Linked DNA regions of Homo sapiens: region 2 is linked to region 1. A link means that fine-mapping ties the variant in region 1 to the expression of a gene that starts in the linked region. Tissue or cell type: whole blood. Region 1 holds a variant in brackets; the other region holds the start of a gene. All regions are shown on one strand. Distances are between the middles of the regions.

Region 1 (10,546 bases):
ACATTCCTGCCAGCAATATACAGGCATACCTCAGAGATATTGTGGGGTAGGTTCCAAACCACCACAATAAAGCGAATACCACAATAATGCAAATCACGCAACGCTTTAGCAGCCCTATGCATATAATAGTTATATACTATACTGCAGTGTATTAAGTGCACGTTATGTCTCAAAAATGTAGATACCTTAATCATAACACATGTTATCACTAAAAAAAATGATGATAGTCATCTGAGCCTTCAGTGAGTCATAATCTTTTTGCTGGTGGAGTGGCCCGCCTCAATGTTAATGAACCTGACTGATCAAGGTGGTGGTTGCTGAAGGCTGGAGTGGCTGTGGCAATTTCTTTTTTTTTTTTTTGAGACAGAGTCTCGCTCTGTCGCCCAGGCCTGAGTGCAGTGGCGCTATCTCAGCTCACTGCAAGCTCCGCCTCCCGGATTCACGCCATTCTCCTGCCTCAGCCTCCCCAGTAGCTGGGACTACAGGCGCCCACCACTGCGCCCAGCTAATTTTTTGTATTTTTAGTAGAGATGGGGTTTCACCGTGTTAGCCAGGATGGTCTCGATCTCCTGACCTCGTGATCCACCCACCTCGGCCTCCCAAAGTGCTGGGATTACAGGCGTGAGCCACCGTGCCTGGCCGGCAATTTTTTAAAATCAGTTGGCTTCATCAATTGATTCTTCCTTTTATGAAAGATTTCTCTGTAGCATGTAACGCCATTTGATAGCATTTTATGCACAGTAGAACTTATTTCAAATTGGTGTCAATCTTCTCAAACCCTGCCACTGCTTTATCAACTTACTTTGTTATATCCTAAATCTTTTGGTTTTTGTTTGTTTGTTTTGAGACAGAGTCTCGTTCTGTCAGCCAGGCTGGAGTGCAGTGGCACAATCTCAGTTCACCGCAACCTCCGTCTCCCAGGCTCAAGCAATTCTCCTGCCTCAGCTTCCCGAGTAGCTGGGATTACAGGCATGTGCTACCACACCTGGCTAATTTTTGTATTTTTAGTAGAGACAGGGTTTCACCATGTTGGCCAGGCTGGTCTCGAACTCCTGACCTCAGGTTATCCACCGGCCTCGGCCTCCCAAAGTGCTGGGATTACAGGTGTGAGCCACCACACCCGGCCTGTTGTCATTTCAACAGTGGTTACAGCATCTTCCCCAGAGGCAGATTCCATCTCCAGAAACCACTTCCTTTGCTCATCCATAAGAAGTGACTCCTCATCTGTGAAAGTTTTATCATGAGGTTGCAGCAATTCTGTGACATCTTCAGGTTCCATTTCTAATTCTAGTTCTGTTCTATTTCCACCATATCTGCAGCTACTTCCTTCCCTAAAGTCTTCCATGAGCGTTGGAATTAATTTCTTCCAAACTCCTGTTAATGTTGACATTTTGACCTCCTTCCACGCATCACAAATGTTCTTAATGGCATCAAGAGTGGTGAGAACCTTTCTAGCAATTTATCAATTTATTTTGCCCAGATCCACCAGAGGAATCACTATATCTGGCAGCTAATAGCCTTTTAAAAATTATTTTGTGTTTATTATTATCATTATCATTATTATTATTATTATTATTATTATTATTATTATTATTATTTTGAGATGGAGTCACACTCTTGTCACCCAGGCAGGAGTGCAGTGGTGCGATCTCGGCTCACTGCAACGTCCGCCTCCCGGGTTCAAGCGATTCTCGTTACTCAGCCTCCCAAGTAGCTGGGATGACAGGCGCCCGCAACCACGCCCAGCTGATATTTGTATTTTTAGTAGAGACGGGGTTTCCCCATGTTGGCCAGGCTGGTCTCGAACTCCCTACCTTGGTTAATCCACCCGCCTTGGCCTCCCAAAGTGCTGGAATTACAGGCGTGAGCCACCACGCCCGGCCGGAAGTGTATTTTTTAAATAATAAGACTTGAAAGTTGAATTTACTCCTTGATCCATGGGCTGTAGAATGGACGTTGTGTTAGCAGGCATGAAAACAGCATTCATCTCCTTGTACGTCTCCGTCAGAGCTCTTGGGTAATCAGGTGCATTGTCAATGAGCAGTAATATTTTGAAAGGAATCTTTTTTTCTGAACAGTGAGTCTCAACAGTGGACTTAAAATACTCAGTAACCTATGCTGTAAAGAGACATGCTGTCACCCAGGCTTGGTGGTTCCACTGAGAGCACAGGCAGAGTAGGTTTAGCATAATTCTTAAAGCCCTAAGATTTTCAGTATGGTAAATGAGCATTGGTCTCAACTTAAAGTCACCAACTGCATTAGCCCCTAACAACAGAGTCAGCCTATCCTTTGAAGCTTTGAAGCCAGGCATTGACTTTTCCTCTCTAGCTATGGAAGTCCTAGGTGGCATCTTCTTCCAATAGAAGGCTGTTTTATCTACATTGAAAATCTGTTTAGTGTAGCCACCTTCATCAATGATCTTAGCTAGATCTTCTGGATAACTTGGTGCAGCTTCTCCATCAGCACTTCCTGCTTCACATTGCACTTTTATGTTACAGAGATGCCTTCTTCCCTTAAACCTCATGAACCAAGAACCAACCTCTGCTAGCTTCCAACTTTTCTTCTGCAATTTCCTCACTTCTCTCATCCTGCATAGGATTGAAGAGAGTTGGGGCCTTGCTCTGGATTCGGCTTTGGCTGAAGGGAGTTCTGTGGCTGGTTTGATCTATACAGACCACTTAAATTTTCCCCATGTCAGCAATAAGGCTGTTTTACTTATCATTCATGTGTTCACTAAAGCAGCACTTTTAATTTCCTTCAATAACTTTTTCTTTCATTCACAACTTGGCAGCTTGTTTGGTGCAAGAGGTCTTGCTTATGGCTTATCTTGGCTTTTGACATGTCTTCCTAACTTTAATCGTCTTTCACTTTTGATTTAAAGTGACAGGCATGCAACTCTTCCTTTTATTTGAAGATTTAAAGGTCATTATAGGGTTGGTTCTTCACTACCCTAATTTAAATATTGTTGTGTTGTCTCAAAGAATTTGGGAGAGGGAGAGAGATGGGAAATGACTGCTCACTGGAGCAGTCAGAACACACACAACATTTATCCATTAAGTTTGTCAACGTATATGGGTTTAGTTTGTGGCACCCCAAAACAATTATAGTAGTAACATCCCGGATCACTGTAACAGATGTAATAATAATGACAATGTCTGAAATATTGTGAGAATTACCAAAACGTAACACAGAGACAAGAAATGAGCACATGCTGTTGGAAAAATGGTCCCAAAATCCTGCTTGACACAGTTGCCACAGACCTTCAATATGTGAAAAACACAATATCTTTGAATTGCGCTAAAGCAAAATGCAATGAAATGAGGGATGTCTGTATAAGACAAAGAGAAAATCATAAAAGCAGCAAGACATGTACAAGGGATCCTCAATAAACTCATATGTCTATGGCCAAGGGTGCCAAGCAGTATTCAATTCAGGGAAGAATAGTCTTCAACAGATGATATGGAAGGACTGTATTTCCACATGCAAGAGTAAAGTTAGACCCTGCTTCACACCGTATTAAAAAAACCCTCACAAGCAATGAACTAAATATAAAAACTAAAATCATAAAATTCTTAGGAGAAAACATAGAAGCAAATCTTCATAATTTTGGGTTTGGTAATAGGCTCTTAGATATGATAGCAAAATCTCTTGCAAAACAACAATGAAAAAACAAAAAGAAACAAAATCCACTGGGAGTAATCTTCATTAAAATCTGAAATTTTGTGTATCAAAGGATATTATCAAGAAAGACAACCTACAGAGTGAAGGAACATTTTTGCAAATCATATAGCTGATAAATTCAGAATATAAAGAACTTCTACAACTCAACAATGAATAGGCAAACAATCCAATTAAAGTATAAGCAAAGGACTTGGATAGACATTTCTCCAAGGAAGGTATACAAATGGCCAGTAAATGCATGAAAAGACGATTCAAGTCATTAGTCATTAGGGAAATGCAAATCAAAAACCCAATGAAATACCACATCACATCTGCTAGGATGGCTATAATTTAGGGGAAAAAAAGCAACATAATAAATGCTGGTGAAAATATGGAGAAATTGGAACCCTCATACATTGTTGGTGGGAATGTAAAATTGCACAGACACTGCGAAATACATTTTGGCTATTCCTCAAAAAGCTAAACATAGGATGACGATAGAATTGTTATAACAATTCCATTCCTCGGTAGATACCCACAGTATTAAGCGCAGGGAGTCACACAGATACATATATGCCAAGAATCATTGGTGCATTATTCACAAATCTCAAACGACCCGTGCATTTTTAATATTCGGCCACAAAGAAGTGAAATTCTGACTCATATTACAACATTGATGAAACTTGCCAACAAGGTTTTCAAGGGAAATAAGCTGACTGTAAAGGCCCATTTTGTAGGATTCCACTTATACGAAGTACATGGGACAGACAAATCATAGAGACAGAAAGTAGATTAGAGGCTACCGGTAATGAAAGGAGGGGGGAATGGGAAGTTATTTTACAATGAGTACCGTGTTTTTATTTGTTCTGTTGAAAAATGTTTTGGAAATAAATAGCAGGAAAGGTTGCACAACATAGTCGATGTAATTAATGCTTCTGAACTGTCCACTTAAAAATGGATAAAACAGCATATCTTATGTTGTACATATTTGACTACACAAAAACAAAGTTTAAAAGTACAAAAAACTCTGTTATTAAGAGTCAGTTTCCCAAAGGGATGGAGATGCTGGTAACAGAAGGGAAAGAAATCTCATCAAATAAAAAAAAGCAATGTCCTCTTCAGGAGGTGGCTCAGCTAGTTTAGCTTTACCTTAGCACCATGATGGTTCATTTTATTCAGAAATAGAAACATGGGGCGTTGGGGAGAAGAGGAGATGTGTACCTGCCTCACCTGCCTCCCTGCCCAGAATGCCGACTCCGACTCTTGCTTTCCACTAAGGCTGGGGATTAAATGAAAATTGAGAATCTGGAAACCCCCAGAGATGATGTTTGTCGTTGGAGCTGATTTTATCTCGTCTTAGTAGCGTGACCTCCTCTTCAAACTCAGGATGCAATTATGGTCAATCTCATCAGTGTGCAGTAATTGCTCAGCCCCAATACCAGATTAGCAGGAAGTTCTGTTATTTTCCTTTTGAGGACGGGCTCCTACTGAACTGTCCTAGAATCTACCACCATTCAACTCACACCACTCAAAAGACCCAGGGAACGGCCAGGCGCGGTGGCTCCCGCCTGTAATCCCAGCACTTTGGGAGGCCGAGGCGGGCGGCTTCGAGGATCAGGAGGATCACGAGGCGGATCACGAGGTCAGGAGATCGAGACCATCCTGGCTAACACGGTGAAACTCCGTCTCTACTAAAAAAAAAAAAAAAAAATTTAGCCCGGCGTGGTGGCGGGCGCCTGTAGTCCCAGCTACTCGGGAGGCTGAGGCAGGAGAATGGCGTGAACCCGGGAGGCGGAGCTTGCAGTGAGCCGAGATCGCGCCACTGCACTCCAGCCTGGGCCAGAGCGAGACTCTGTCTCAAAAACAAAAACAAAAACAAAAACAACAAAAAAAGACCCAGGGAACTAGGCCAGTCCAGCTCCCAACCCCAAGCAGGGAGCAACTTGCTCAGTCCACGTTGTGATAGCTCCTCGCTGCCACAAGGTGGTGATGTTGCATCACACACGCGCATGATGGGCGCGCAGGCGCCAATGCTCCCAGGACCTGCTGTTCCATTCCTAAATGAAAGTTGTTCCCAGGATCTGGACTCACAAGACAAGGCAGCCTGTTCCCTGCTGGGGAGCTCAGGGGCAAGAGGGCATCTCGGAGGGAGGGCACATTCTCAC[C/T]TCTGAAGACAAGGAGAACATCATCAGCACATAGACCAATCCCAGCAGTGCACCTTAGGATGGGGGCCACTGTGAGTTACAGCAAAATGAACGAATGAATGAACCAATAAATGTCTGAGAGGGAAAGTCCCAACGACCCTCAGGAGGTGCAATCAAGAGTTGCAGTTATTTTCGTTAGGAACGTTCTAAACCACAGGGGAAACCTTCCTTCCTTCTGCTCTATCGTTGGAGTGGGACATCAGTGTTTCTGGTCTCTATTTCCGGGACACCAGAAATCAAGGTATAGAGTTTGGAGAGGGGTCTTGGGGAGGTCACAGTGGCAGGTGACTGCCAAATGAGGGGGCAGAAGCCAGCAAACACTAGAAAAAAAGACAATCGGCCTAAACTGTTCACCAGCACCGCCCTCCCAACCCCCAACTGGCTCTGTTTCCAAGACTTTCCATTTTCTAGCCATTTCCTTGTCCTTAAACCACTTTCCTTTAATCGAACTTTTTCTTTGGAGCCATGCACCCAAGGACTATGGCCTGTCCTTGGGAATTATAGGGAATTCCTGTTGTATGTGAAATTTTCCACCGATTTAAGAATCTTTGGAAAGCTTTACTACAATATCCTGGTCCATTGTCAGTTTTGATTTTTTCTGGAACTCCCATGACAGCAAAACAAGACAATAAACGTTTTTTAACATGGGAAGTACTTTCTCCTGTCTGGCAAGCTGCCCATATGAAATGTGAATAAGTATCAACTGTTACATGAACATATGACAATCTTCCAAATGAAGGGACATGCGTGACATCCATTTGCCATAATGCATTAGGACACAGACCTCTGGGATTAACTCCTGCCTCTTGAGTGGGCAGGTGTAAGACTTAACACTGGGGAGAAACCTTGGACAATACCTGGCTTTCCTAGGCAGAGGACCCTGCGGCCTTCCACAGTGTTTGCGTCCCTGGGTACTTGAGATGAGGGAGTGGTGATGACTCTTAAGGAGCATGCTGCCTTCAAGCATTTGTTTAACAAAGCACATCTTGCACCGCCCTTAATCCATTTAACCCTGAGTTTGACACGCACATGTTTCAGAGAGCACGGGGTTGGGGGTAACGTCATAGATTAACAGAATCTCAAGGCAGAAGAATTTTTCTTAGTACAGCACAAAATGGAGTCTCCTATGTCTACTTCTTTCTACACAGACACAGTAACAATCTGATCTATCTTGCTTTTCCCCCCACCGCCCTCCCAACCCCCAACTGGCTCTGTTTCCAAGACTTTCCATTTTCTAGCCATTTCCTTGTCCTTAAACCACTTTCCTTTAATCGAACTTTTTCCTTGGAGCCATGCATATCCGGTTTCCCCCAATGGTGGCATCTCACAAAGGACGGTCCAGTATCCCAACGGCGTGTTGCGTTCTGCGGGACGCAGATTTCCTTCACAGGCACCCCCCGGGTTGCGTTTTTATAGCCACACACCCGCCGCCTCCCTAACTCCTGGGCACAGCTAATGAGTCCTGCATTTCTCTCCTCTGTCCTTTGGAGAAATTGATCCCCCGTCTGTGATCTTTGGGATTGGTTTCGCTCACCAGCGTAACTCCCCGGGAGATCCAGCAGGCTGATGGGTGTGGAGTACCAGTGGCTCATTCTTTTTGTCGCACTACAGACTCTCATTCTGTAACCTGGATATCTGCCAGGGATGGGGCGGGGGTTGGCATAGAGCAGGAGCGTCCCTCCTCCCCGCACAGAGTCCCAGCACTCCTTTTTTTTTTTTTTTTTTTTTTGAGATGGAGTCTCACTGCAGTTCAGGCTGAAGTGTAATGGTACGATCTCGGCTTACTGCAACCTCCGCCTCCTGGGTTCAAGCAATTCTCCTGCCTCGGCCTCCCGAGTAGCTGGGACTACAGGCGCTCCCCACTACGCCCAGACTAATTTTGGTATTTTTAGTAGAGACAGGGTTTCACTGTGTTGGCCAGGCTGGTCTCGAACTCCTGACCTCAGGTGATCCGCCCGTCGCGGCCTCCGGGATTACAGGCGTGAGCCACCGCGCCCGGCCTCCGCGCTCCATTCCTGTGGGTCCAGTTTCCACCTCCTCGAAACCCAGCAGGGTCCTCCCCAGCCCTGAAGGGCTAGACGAGCCCGGAGGCGGACTGCGGTGGCGTGGCGTGGCGTGGGCGGAGCTTGGAGCCGGAGGCGGGGTGTGGGCGGGGCTGAGAGGCGGGGTGCGGCCTCGGCGTGGGCGGGGCCTGTGTGTGGCGGGCGCGCTGCGGAAACAAGCCTGCAGTCCCGCGGGCCTGGTCCCAGGCTGCTTGGGTTGTGCGGGTACCTGGTCCCCCAGGGCGGAGCCGCAGCGCTCCTGGTCTGCGGGACGTGGCCCTGTAGCTGGAACCTGGCGCAACTCAGAGAGCTGTCCTCGCAGAGGCGCTGGTCCCAGACCTGCGGCTCCTACCCCGGCCGGCGCTGGCTGGAGGGTGAGTGATCTCCTACCGGAGACCGAGGGACTTGGGAGAGGCAGTTCCCTCCTGCAGCCTCCCCGGAGGTTCTAGGTCACCATTCACTGTCCCTGCAATGAGACACCTTCCGGTACCACTTATCTAAAATAGCAAACATTCCCCTGCTGTTTGATCCGCTAGAGTACTTTATTTGCTTATCACTATTAGGTACCATAGTTTTTGGTACTTACCGCCACCTGGAATTTTGTGGCGCTTTCTTTGCCGGCTTGTTTATTGTTTCTTGCCCGCCCCCCGTACCGTCCCCGAAGAGTACAAAGTTCCATTCGTATCTGTCTTGTGGCCCCAGCACCTGCCCAGAGATGAGCCCTCCTGCCAGGAGGGGTCCAGCTGAACAAACGTGTGTATGGGTTAGGAAATGTGTCCCACTCATTGCTAGTAATGGAGTCAACGCCAGCGGCTTTCAAAGAACTCGTGAAGAGCCTGGAGCTTCTCAGAAACCATCACCCGCTCTGGAACCTCCATGACTCTGGGCTGCATACTCACCTTCCAATCTTAGTTTCGCCTCCACCTTGACCTTTAACCCTCCTGGGGGCCCGTCTGCAATAGTGCTTCAGATTCTTCCCCTATCTTTAACCTGAGAGCACCTGCCTCACCTTAGACCTGCTCTCCGCTGTCCTCAGGGTCCCTCCACGGTGTGCGCCATGGGCAGCCTCCTTCCCTCTAGGTTCCCCATAGATTGAGAGCGACCTGAGAAGGGGGCCAAGCCGTGGGGAGAAGCAAGTCCTGAGCTGCCTGGCCAAGCCACGCCCGTGGGGTCAGGAGAAGGGCCCTCCTCCTCGGCCTCACCGACCAGACTCCTGCTTCCCTGGGCTTTCCCAGGCCTCCCTATGCGCTGTGACAGCCAAAGTTTGCTTTCTACAAAGTCACCTCCAGGCAGTGACTGTCTACCAGGGCACTGCAGAGCCTCCCAGCTAATGATGAGGTCATTCACTCTCCTCTCTTTTTCCTTTAAGATCCCTTAAATTTCCTTTAAGATAAATCCCATTTTGGCTCACCCTGTAAGTTACAGCCCCACTTCTCACTGCCAAGTGTGGGTGTCACTGCTGGCTCAGGGAGCATGGATCCTGTAAACTTGCCTCATCGGGAGGCTTTAAGGAGTGACCTCCAGGGACTAGACTAGTAGCTTGTTCTTCACAATCACTGCCCTCCCAAGAACATCCAGGATTTCAGCGTCAGTGCTAAGACAACCATGTCTCTCCCTGACACATGCTCGCTGCTGAGAATTCTAGGAAAAGCAGAGGGCTGTGCAGGTGCCCCTGCCCCTAGGCTAGGAGAGCTGGCAAATGCCTGGAGACCCAAAGGCCTCATCCTCAGGGCGGCCAACTCTTCTGTTTTAGTGATATACAGACTATCTTTTATTGTGATTTATAGTGCAACTTACCGGTTCAAACAATACTACCTGTATTCATAAACTTTCTTTTTCCTTTCCTTCCTCACTGCCCAGCTTTAGGTTCATTCTTGTAAGTGTTGCTGGTGTCAGAATAGGAACCTCCCTGCGCTTTGAAGGGATGAATGTGACCTCTCCCACATTCTCCGGTGCTGTGATGTACCTTAAACACAGCAAGGTACTTGGACACAAAGCCTGTGCCTGGAGCCCTTATGCACTTTCAGACAGACAGTGCATGGCCCTCGCTACAGACTCAGTGCCATTGTAGATGTTTCTGCATGGAAAATACATAAACACAAATATCTGCAGTTGCCAATCCACCACCATCTTGCAGCCCCAAGAGAGCCCCGGGAATCCAGGTTCCTTTGGTATTTCTGCTCCCTGCCCTTGGTGCATAGCCTCCATCCCCAGGACGACAAGAGGGCTGACTGAGCCCTAACATCATCCCACAGTCCAGCTGGGAAGAGAGCCAGCGACAAAGCCAGAGGGAGCTAGCTCCCACACCTCCCAGCCCCAGCTGAGTTCGCTTCTTGAGGGTATTTTCTGGAAGCCCCGCCTGTGACTTCTGCTGACACCTCACTGGCCATCTCAACTGCAAGGCAGCCTAGGAAATGTAGTGCTTACCTGTACACGTGGATTCCTGGAATCAATTCAGGGTCTGTCCTTGGGGAACCAGAGTGGGGATATTCAGTCACCAAAGATGCAGGTTCCCAGCTGTCCAGTGAAGTCAAGCGAATGGGGAAGGATTCGAAGTCACCTTTGGGTGTTTGGAGTGATCAGAGCTGTCTGCCTCCTCTTGGGGAGTGACAGTGCCCCACTCTGTTAAACCCCATATTT
Region 2 (10,546 bases), 68 kb after region 1:
TCCTACTAAGTAAGTCTTGAAATAATGCACTATAGAGATCCTGTCTTATCTATACAGCTAGAGAGAATAACAAATTTTACTTTTATCAGTTAAATAAATTTTGTCTTAATATGACTTATTATTTATATTTATCTTTTTACATTTCAAAAACACTATGTTATTCAATTGAATGACTTATAATTTTTGAGTTACCTGGTCACTGTATTATCATTGTCAGTTATTATATTTCACATGCATTACTTAGTAAAGACAAATCTTGGGGCCGGGCACGGTGGCTCACACCTATAATCCCAGCACTTTGGGAGGCCAAGGCGGGCGGATCACGAGGTCAGGAGATCGAGACCATCTTGGCTAACATGGTGAAACCCTGTCTCTACTAAAAATACAAAAAATTAGCCGGGCGTGGTTGCAGGTGCCTGTAGTCCCAGCTATTCGGGAGGCTGAGGCAGGAGAATGGCCTGAACCCGGGAGGCGGAGCTTGCAGTGAGCAGAGATCGTGCCACTGCACTCCAGCCTGGACGACAGAGCGAGACTCCGTCCCAAAAAAAAAAAAAAAAAAGAAAAATCTTTACCAAGGCCTGATTTCTTGAGCATATTGATATAATATATAGTTAAACATGTTATTGATAGACAAGATGTTTCTCAAGAATATTATGTTTGTGCAGAAATTACCACATAAAATTAAATCCTTCTTTTCGGCTGACTATTTTTTAAAAACTTAGGCTGATATTAATGAAAAAACTGAAACCCAAATGAAGCCTGGAGTTAATAGTAATGTACAACGTTGGGACCTTAGTTTCCACAAATGTATCTGTTTTACTTTAAGATCTTCAAGATGCGGAGCACCCCTACAACGATTAGGAGAGACACAGGCTAGAAATAGTTTATTACTTACAGATCCTGGGGCACATGGCATACTTGGAGGCCACCTTCATGGAAATCAGGGAGTGCAGGCAGAGAGACCAAGACAGCAACCCATGGGCCAACACCTTTATTGGGTCCAGGGTGTTATCCAAACAGGTTTCCCATGGGGAGTTTTATTCGGTGGGTTTACAGCAAGCAGGCATGAGTTCCAGGAGGTGGCACAGTGACTGAGTGGTGGGCCCTGTGGCGCATCTGCACATTCTAGGTGGGGTGTGAGGGTCAGTGTGGCCAATAGGTTCTAGCTGTGCCATAGAGAAGTGGTCAACAGGAGATAGTTGTATGAGGCAGATATCTGGATCCACCACATAACAGAACTGGGAGAAGGTGGAGAACCAGCAACTTTGTCCGGGGTGACTGAGCCTTGATTTTGGTGTGGGAAAGTCCAATGTATATTCAAAATGGATGTGGAGGCAACCCAACATAAGAATTCACAACACTACCATGGTGATATGTTACCATTAGGGGAAACTGTGTTAGGGGAATATGGTAACTACCTGTATTATCTGACTTTCCTGTGAATCTAAAGTTATTCCAAAGTAAAAAAAAAAATTGTATTAAAAAAACTATTATAAATAAAAGTTTAATGACACTAAAATCCCTGCTTTAAAATCTTATGAGCTAGCAGAGTACATTTCTAACTTATATGTTATATGTGCTGTTAACTATGAGAAGATCTCCCCCAAAATCATGTTTTTCTAATTTCTTATAAAAATACTAATACAAAACTGCTTATTGACTGCATCTCATCAGCTGTTATTCTTTTAGACTGATTGAATTATTCTAAGTTGCTTTTCCAGATTCATCTAATAAAAAGAAAGATTGGATCTGACATGAACAGTGTATAAATTAGTACAAGAAAGTCTCTTTTCTGAATCAAATCTTGGTCCTACAGTTTAGGATTTTATTTATTTAATTTACTTTGAGACAGGGTCTCATTCTGTTGCCCAGGCTGGAGAGCAGCGGCGCTATATCTCAGCTCACTGCAACCTCCGCGTCCCGGGTTCAAGCGATTCTGGTGCCTCAGCTTCCTGAGTAGCTGGGACTACAGGTGAGCGCCATCACACCCGGCTAAATTTTTTATTGTATTTTTAGTAGAGACAGGGTTTCATCATGTTGGCCAGGCTGGTCTCCAACTCCTGGCCTCAAGTGATCCACCAGCCTCAGCCTCCCAAAGTGCTGGGATTACAGGAGTGAGCCACCATGCCCAGCCTAGTTTAGGATTAAAAAATTGTTCTATGCCTTAATGCCAAAGATAGAACATTGTAATAATTATTTTATTACAATTTATGTAATTATTTTAATTATTTTATGTCTTTAAGAAACAATTTGCCTCTGTCATATCTCACATTAAAATGGAAAAAAAAATTCCTTATGTTTGTGTTCTAACAAATTAAAAGTTGTGTATCATTGTGAATTCAAAAGAGAAGCAGGTAACACATGAACTGGGATCATGGAAACCAAACCAGAATAAAGCAAGCCCAGCACAATACTATCTTGGAGGCTGACCAGTTAGAAGGTCTTAAACATAATATATTTTAAACAAACAGTTAAAGGAAAAAGATTAACCTAGTGTTGTAACCGAGCGAGTTACAGAGAAACGCCACACTCTGAGACGAATTCAGGAGTCCTTTATTAGCCGGCAGCCGAGAGACAGCTAGCGCTCGAAATTCTCTTGGCCCCGAAGAAGGAGCTAGATTTTCTTTTATACTTTGGTTTAGACAGGGGAGAGGGGGAGTCTAGTTGAAACAATCTTACAGAAGTAAAGTAGGCAAAAAGTTAAAAGGATAAACGGTTACAGGAAAGTAAACAGTTCCAGGTGCAGAGGCTTTAAGTCTATCCTAAGGTGATGGACGCCGGGCTTTGGGCGTTATCAACCGGACACAAACGCAGGGGCTCTGGGTGCTATTAACCGGGCGAATTCCTGGGAACTGCGGATATAGCTTGCCACAGTATCTTATCAGTTAATTGCATTCTTGATGTGCTGGGAGTCAGCTTGCACAAGTTAAGTCCTTGAGGAAGGGGGTGGGTAAGGGGCTGCGAGTGAAGGAGTCACGATGGAGTCCGTCTGGCTCTCTTAGCTAAGGAAGAGTCACTTCAGGTTAAAACAAGGTAGGGTATCCCACTAGAAGCCTCACATCATTAAGCTTCAGTCAGGCAGGCATTCCTTTAAAAAGTGTTTACTGAGTACCTTCTCTATGTCAGTCACTATTTGGGGCATAAAGGACTCACTTCTCCGCAAAAACAAACTCTGATCCCCCGGTCTCCTCGAGTCACGGAGCTTGCAAGCTAGTGGGAAAAATTGGGAACTGGTGCAAAGAATGACTGCAAAATAAATTGTGGTCATCTTGAAGACATATGCGTGCATGTGTGCGTGAAGCTTTTTAAATAGAGAAGCTTTAAGTGGGGGAAATTTGCTGACATTACACGATTTCTTCTCTTAGTGCAAATGTATACAGCCTGTCTTTTTGAAGGGGTCACGGTAGATAATTATGCTCTGTTAACCTCATTTGTTGTCAGGGAAAATTAAAACTAAGGGTAGTGTCAGTAGGAATCTTGGTTCCTGCCAGTTTTGTTGTTTGTTAGCATATCTTCCTTTACAGGTAGTATGGTTTCATTTTCGTAAAAATGCTGCATAAACGTGGCTGGGTATGTTACTCATTGCAGTGCCTGCTGATTTCGCTGGACCCCACCCTGCTTTTGCTGCCCAATGCGATAGCATATGGGACAGAGCTAAATTCCTACTCAGCTGTAACTCTGCTTATTTTCAGGAAAAAGAATGCCTGTGTTTCGAAGTTCCTTCTTAGGACGAAACCAGCTGAAGCTGGCGAAATCCAAGATGGCGCCTCTGAAGAGCCTCTGGCTTTATCATCATCCTGTTCTCATGCTAAACAACATGTCGCCATGACAACGACTGGAAGAGACCAAGAAGGGACAGAAAAAAAGGGGTTTCTTGATTCCGGGAAAAATCTCCGTTCTTTCCCAAGGAAAGCACGAATATTCCCCCCCGTGCTCTTAATGCCCAGCCCCTTCATTAAAGACACCCTACCTCTGAAACTTCCCAGCTCTCACAAGCTAAGTTGATTTCAGATCTTCCAATTCCATAGCCATTGAATACAGCCTGCACTGCTTGACACACTCCCTTTCGGTTTCGTGCATTGGCCTCACCACGCAACAGGAAACAACCCTTTTTGGGATAACCGGGACTCCCGGTAACATTTCCATATATACATATCTTAATGTATGCAAGGGCGTCTGGGGGAGAAAGAAGCAGCACATTTCATTCTTTGCTTTCTATAATACTGGATTGCTTGAGTTTGTGACACATGTTAACATTTGCAACATTTTTAAACTAAATTGTATGTATTATAGAACAGTCCTCTGCGCTGAGCTTGGACTTAAAGTGGAAAGGCTTACATTTGCAGAATTAAAAAAAGCATCGAAACATTCTGTGGCAGGAAGTCCTGCGAGCCTCCTCGCCCCAGCCCGGTTTCCCGCGGGCCCCAGCCTCATCCCCCAAGGCCCCACCCTGAGAGCCCCCAGGTCCCAGCCGCGTCCTCCTGGACCCCTCCCAGGCGTGGCGAGCCGGGTCGCGGGAGCGCTCCGCCACCAGGGGACAGTGCGGCGCCGACCGTGGGCTGCTGGCTCGGCCGAGGGCACCCAGGCGCCCTCCGCTGCAGCGGGCTGGTTGCAGAGGGGCGGGCTCTCGCCAGGCAGCAGGCGCTCCGGGCGCAGCTGGGAGGAAGGAACGCCCCCGGGAGTGGGCGGCGGCCGAGGGACCCTGCAACCGTCCTCCCTGGAGGAGGCCCCCGCAGCTCCCGCAGCCCCCCTCATCCCGGACGGGCCGGGGATTGGGACTGGCCTGGGGTCTCCTACTCTCCTACTCCGCGCAGGAAGTAGCCCCTTGGCAGGACCGGCGGTGCCTGCTGCTTTCAGGAGCCCCGAGCCGCTTTTGTCTGGGTGCAGCTCAGCTCACATCCCCGATGCAAGTCTTTCCCGGCTCGTCTCCCCTTCTTCCCGGAGTCCATGCCTTGCTGTCGGTGACTCATCCCACACTGTGCCCTGCGACTCACCCTGTCGCTTTCTCTGTTCATCCGGGAGCGCGGCGCCATCTCCCTCCAGCCCCGCCTCCCCTACAGTGCTCCGTGCTGAGGTCGCACGTTCTCTCCTCCCTCCAGCTCCCTGGCTCTTGGCCCTTCCCAGGCCACCAGGCGACAGCAGCCTCCGCCTTCATTTCCCTTGGTCATTTCAGGCGCATGCTTGGAGGATTTCAGGATCTGACTCAGCTTCCCCGCCATGCATCCCTCCACCAGCATCCAGTCACACCTCTGCAGCCTTCAGTGTCCTGGAAAGGACTGACCAATCTGACCCATTAGAACCTACCCAGACCAATTTGAAGGCCACTGCCCCTCAACCGTGGCCACCCACTCCTGCCCCACCTGGAGCCCCAAACTGCTCAGTTCCTTCTCTAAAACTCTGCCCTCTTTTGTTTGTTGTGAATAACTGTCTTCCCTGGTTCTTTCCACACCTCTCTGGCCTCTCCTTGTCTTTTTCTGGTTCTTTTTTTCTCTATTCTCCCTTATGCACTGGCCTTGCTGGAGGTCCCTGCTCTCCCTGCAAAACCTCACCACACCCTTGACTTCAGCTATATCCATTTCACCTCACGTTGACATCTGGTGCCTAGACCTCTCTCCCGAGCCTTCCACACCATGCCAAAAATGAAATTCATTTTCTCCTCTAAATTTGCTCACCTTCTTGTTTTCCCAATCTTATTTATTGTCACAGCCATTCCCCTGCTGGTCCAAGTCAGTAGTCTGAGAGTCATGCTAGACTCCTCCTTCCTTATCTACCCATCCACCAATCCCCAAGCCCTGTCTATCCTCCTTTTTTTTTTTTTTTTTTTCCAGTCAGAGTCTTGCTGTGTTGCCCAGGCTAGAGTGCAATGGCACGATCTCGGCTCACTGCAATCTTTGCCTCCCGGGTTCAAGTGATTCTCCTGCCTCAGCCTCCTGAGTAGCTGGGATTACAGGCGCATGTCACCACGCCCAGCTAATTTTTGTATTTTTAGCAGAGATGAGGTTTTGCCATGTTGGCCAGGCTGGTCTTGAACTGCTGACCTCGTGATCCGCCTGCCTCTGCCTCCCAAAGTGCTGGGATTACTGGCATGAGCCACTGTGCCTGGTCATCTATCCTCCTTTTTAAATAGCTCTGCCATGTGTGCCTGTCTCCCCTGACAGCTCACCCTCATCCTATTTGTCCACATTGCTGCAGAGTAGTCTCTTCCATACACCAGGAGTTCCCAACCCCCGGGCCACAGACCTGACTGGTCTGTAGCCTGTTAGGAACCAGGACACACAGCAAGAGGTGAGCCACCAGTGGGTGAGCTAGTGAAGCTTTATCTGTATGTGCAGCTGCTCCCCATTGCTTGCATTACCACCAGAGCTCTGCCTCCTATCAGATCAGGCAGCATTAGATTCTTATAGGAGCACAAACCCTACTGTGAACTGCACACATAAGGGATCTAGGATGTGCGCTCCTTATGAGAATCTAATGCCTGATAATCTGCCGTTGTCTTCATCACCCCCACATGGGGCCAGATAGTTGCAGGAAAACAAGCTCAGGGCTCCCACTGAAAATAAAGTGCACAAGAAGTGTCATGTGCTTGAATCATCCCGAAACCATCCTCTGCTGTCCAAGGAAAAATAGTTTTCCACAAAACCCCTCCCTGGTGCCAAAAAGGTTGGGATGGTTGCCATACATAACTCTGATGATGAGACCACGAAGCTCAGAATCCTCCAGAGGCTCTCCACTGCCTGTAAGATGAAATAAAATTTATGGGTGTGACTTATCCATAAGGGCCCAGTCTAAACTGCCTCATATTTAATTATATAGTAAGCTATTTGTTTCCTCAAACGTATATATTTTGGCCCATTTCCCAGTCTCCTAGGTTGGAATATGCTCTGTGTGTCACCTGGCCAGCTCATGCTCTTTCTCATTCTCAGCTCAAGTGTTAGGGACTCTATGACACCTTTCTTGATTCTCCCAGTCAGACATATTGTTGCTACTTTTTCTTAACACTTATCCTTTTATCCTTGGCACCACTAAAGCACATATCACATCAGATTTCACTTGTTTGCACATCTGTCTGGCATCTTGAGCCCAGGGACCGTGTCGCCTGTCTTCATGTCCCCAGGCCCTAGTGTAGCTCCCAGCCTATAGTGAGTGCAGAATAAAAGTTTGTAGAATGAGGCCAGGCGCGGTGGCTCATGCCGGTAATCCCAGCACTTTGTGAGGCCAAGGTGGGCAGATCACGAGGTCAGGAGTTTGAGACCAGCCTGACCAACATGGTGAAACCTCGTCTCTACTAAAAATACAAAAAATAGCCGGGTGTGGTGGCACGCGCCTGTAATCCCAGCTACTCAGGAGGCTGAGGCAGGAGAATCGCTCAAACCTAGGAGGTGGAAGTTGCAGTAAGCTGAGATCGCGCCACTGCACTCCAGCCTGTGCAACAGAGTGAGACTCTGTCTCAAAAAAAAAAAAAAAAGTTTGTAGAATGAATGAAACAATTAGTTACACCACAGTTAGTGAGTCATCGATACTTCATCAAGGCTGGGTATTTCGTATAATAAAGTTATTAAAGCTGATAAGCAAAGATCAAGTTACCCAAAGAACAGCACTGCCGGTGATCTAAAGGTCTTTGCCCTCAGGTTGCTTAGGTAACGGAAAGGATAAGAACTCCCCACTGTTCTGGGGCGGATCTTACATTGCTTTTGGAAGAGGCAATAGACTTGGGAAAGAAAGGAGTGTGTGTATTGAGGTATTGAGGGAATGGTTAGGTGGGAGGAGTCAGAGAGGAAGGCTGCAGTAGCCCCTCAGTCGACCCTGGCTGCTTTGTCCTTGGGGCTCAGTGAACAGATTATCTGTTTTCATGGTAAGGGGTTGGGATTCTCTACTTCAGGTGGGCACCCAGAAAGTGAATTGCTCGCCTTTGTTTAAAAATAATGAAAATGGGCCGGGCGCGGTGGCTCATGCCTGTAATCCCAGCACTTTGGGAGGCTGAGGCAGGTGGATCACCTGAGATCAGGAGTTTGATACCAGCCTGGCCAACATGGTGAGACCCCGTCTCTATTAAAAATACAAAAATTAGCCAGGCGTGGTGATGGGTGCCTGTAATCGCAGCTACTCAGGAGGCTGACACAGGAGAATCACTTGAACCCAGGAGGCGGAGGTTGCAGTGAGCTAAGATCTTGCCACTGCACTCCAGCCTGGGCTACAGAGCAAGACTCTGTCTCAAAAACAAACAAACAAAAAACCCAAAAATAATGAAAATGTCTGCCCACCCTTCACTAAGTAAACATAATGAAAATGCACATCTTGTGCCCTCTTTTGCTTTTATTCTATAATACCCAAGCCTACGTTTTGGAACTAAACCCCACGCCCTTTGTGTGAAAGCCATGCGGATCTTCAAAGGGATCTCTTTAGGGGGAACATTAAGTTTGCCCAAGGAGGCACCCTTCTGGGTCTCCAAGGCCACCTGGCTGCAATGCAGTCCAATTCCAGCCTCTGTCTCCCAGAGCACCCCCTGTGCCAGGGCGGCAGGATCCCAGGGGTGTGTCTACCATGGCACCAGACACACACTGGCTGAATGTAGCCTCGTCATCGCTGAGCCCTGTTCACAACCATTTTTGTTTTCGTGCTTTTTCAGTTTTAGGAGCTTTGTTGTATCCCTGGTCAAAACTACTCTGGTGAAGCTCACTAGGTGTCTCTAACTCGGCACCTGAGGAGCAGTTTTCCTGAGCTCCTCATGCAAATGGACGCCACTCCCTTCGGCAAAGTCCTGGGAGCTCAAGGGAGGCTGCCCAGTCAGCTGCGGCCCATCCCAACGCATTGGGGACCTGCCCACCTGGCTCTTAATTTGCATTTTGAAATGTCACCCAAGTGATTCCAGACCAGATAAGAAGATGAGCTTCTCTTGTTATGGAAAAAGGAAGAGAGACAGAGAGAGAAACCTCTGTTTTGTTATTTAGCTATTCCTCAAATTCTTATGACCAGTGATGATATTTTTTAAAAAATCTCCAGAACAACACAATTATTTAAATTTAACTCAGATTTTATTTTAATTTATTAATTTATTTATTTTTGAGATGGAGTCTCGCTGTGACACCCAGGCTGGAATGCAATGGCGCAATCTTGGCTCACTGCAACCTCAGCTTCCCGGGTTAAAGCGATTCTCCTGCCTCAGCCTCCCAACTAGCTGGGATTACAGGTGCCTGCCACCACGCCTGGCTAATTAATTAATTATTATTATTTATTGAAACGGAGTCTCACTCTGTCACCTGGGCTGGAGTGCAGTGGTGTGATCTTGGCTCACTACAACCTCTACCTCCCAGGTTCAAACAATTCTCCTGCCTCAGCCTCCTGAGTAGCTGGGATTACAGGCACACACCACCATGCCTGGCTAACTTTTTTTTGTATTTTTAGTGGAGACAGGGTTTCATCATGTTGACCAGGCTGGTCTCAAACTCCTGACTGCAAGTGATCCGCCTGCCTCGGCCTCCAAAAATGCTGGGATTACAGGCATGAGCCACCGCACCTGGCCTTAACTCAGATTTTAAATATGAGAGTATCAACTTGTAGGGGTGGAAGAGGTGTGATGCCTCTCCTTACACATTGTATGGGTCACAGCCAAGGCTCCTATCTCAAAAGACACAGTCCCACCTCCAGCTCCAGTTCGTCTTCTCATTCATCCCAGATAAGTTTCTTGAAAGAGTATTCTAAGACAACTCTCTCCATGTGTCTCCAGGCCTGGATCTGCCTCAGTTTTTGCTCCTCCCATCTATCGTCCCTTGGTAACTAACGACTTGGGAATGAGAAATGCCCTTTTCAATTCTGACTCTCCTCTTCCTCTCAGCACCAGCAGCGGATGCTGACCTGGTTCTCTGTTTCTTCTGTCTTCTCCTTCTCTGTCCTCTTTGCCATGTGCTCCTTTTCCAGCTGTCTTTTAAAATGTTTGTTGCTGGATCAAGGAGTTTCTCCCCCAGCTTCATTTAGCATCGATAGCTCTTACCTTTGTCGTAATTTCTACCTGTCCTCTGGACATCTTCACCTAAATGTTCACCAGCACTCTAAGCCCCTTTTGACTCAAACTGATTATCTGACCCCTAAATCTGATCCTCCTCCCCCTATATACTCTTTCATGTACCCAGTTCTCTGAGTTAGAATAAATACAAACCATCTGGAACTGTAACTCTGCCCTTCTCTCTCAAAATCCACTTGTTCAGTATAGTCTATGATTTCTGCCCCCTAATTAGCTCTCTGCCTCACAGACATCACCATTGCCAGTGCCTGGCTAAGGCCCAAATTACCTGTGTTCTGGGCTCCTGAGGCCAATTTCTAAACAGCTCCCTGCTGTCACTGTCTTCTGCACCCTGCCCATCCTAAGGCCTGATGCTGGAGTTGGGAAGGAAGAAAAGAAGGAAGGTGTGGTGTGGTGGCACATGCCAGTAGTCCCTGCTCTGGAGGCTAAGGCAGGAGGATTGCTTGAGCCCAGGAGGTAGAGGCTGCCGCAAGTTATAATCACACCACTGCACTCCAGCCTGGACTACAGAGTGAGACGGGGGTTGGG

The links. PIP is the estimated chance that this variant, and not a neighbour inherited with it, causes the effect.
Region 2: it holds the start of LINC01011, and the variant in region 1 is fine-mapped to the expression of LINC01011 in whole blood (TOPMed, PIP above 0.99).

The regions. Positions count from the first base shown.
Region 1 is chr6:3,051,304-3,061,849 of GRCh38, reverse strand. It overlaps LOC124901242 (a long non-coding RNA gene), which reads right to left and starts at 6,762. Exons shown (of 2, transcript XR_007059409.1): 1 at 5,826-6,762; 2 at 4,493-5,351. RefSeq lists an enhancer at 6,523-7,315 and a silencer at 7,928-8,157. The variant C/T (reference allele first, on the strand shown) is at 5,826.
Region 2 is chr6:2,983,158-2,993,703 of GRCh38, reverse strand. It overlaps LINC01011 (long intergenic non-protein coding RNA 1011), which reads right to left and starts at 5,737. Exons shown (of 3, transcript NR_026856.1): 1 at 5,673-5,737; 2 at 3,971-4,176; 3 at 2,533-3,835. NQO2-AS1 (NQO2 antisense RNA 1) reads left to right here. Exons shown (of 2, transcript NR_186367.1): 2 at 3,693-4,368. RefSeq lists enhancers at 2,558-3,365, 3,643-3,802, 3,366-4,175, 4,176-4,985, 4,986-5,795 and a silencer at 4,373-4,792.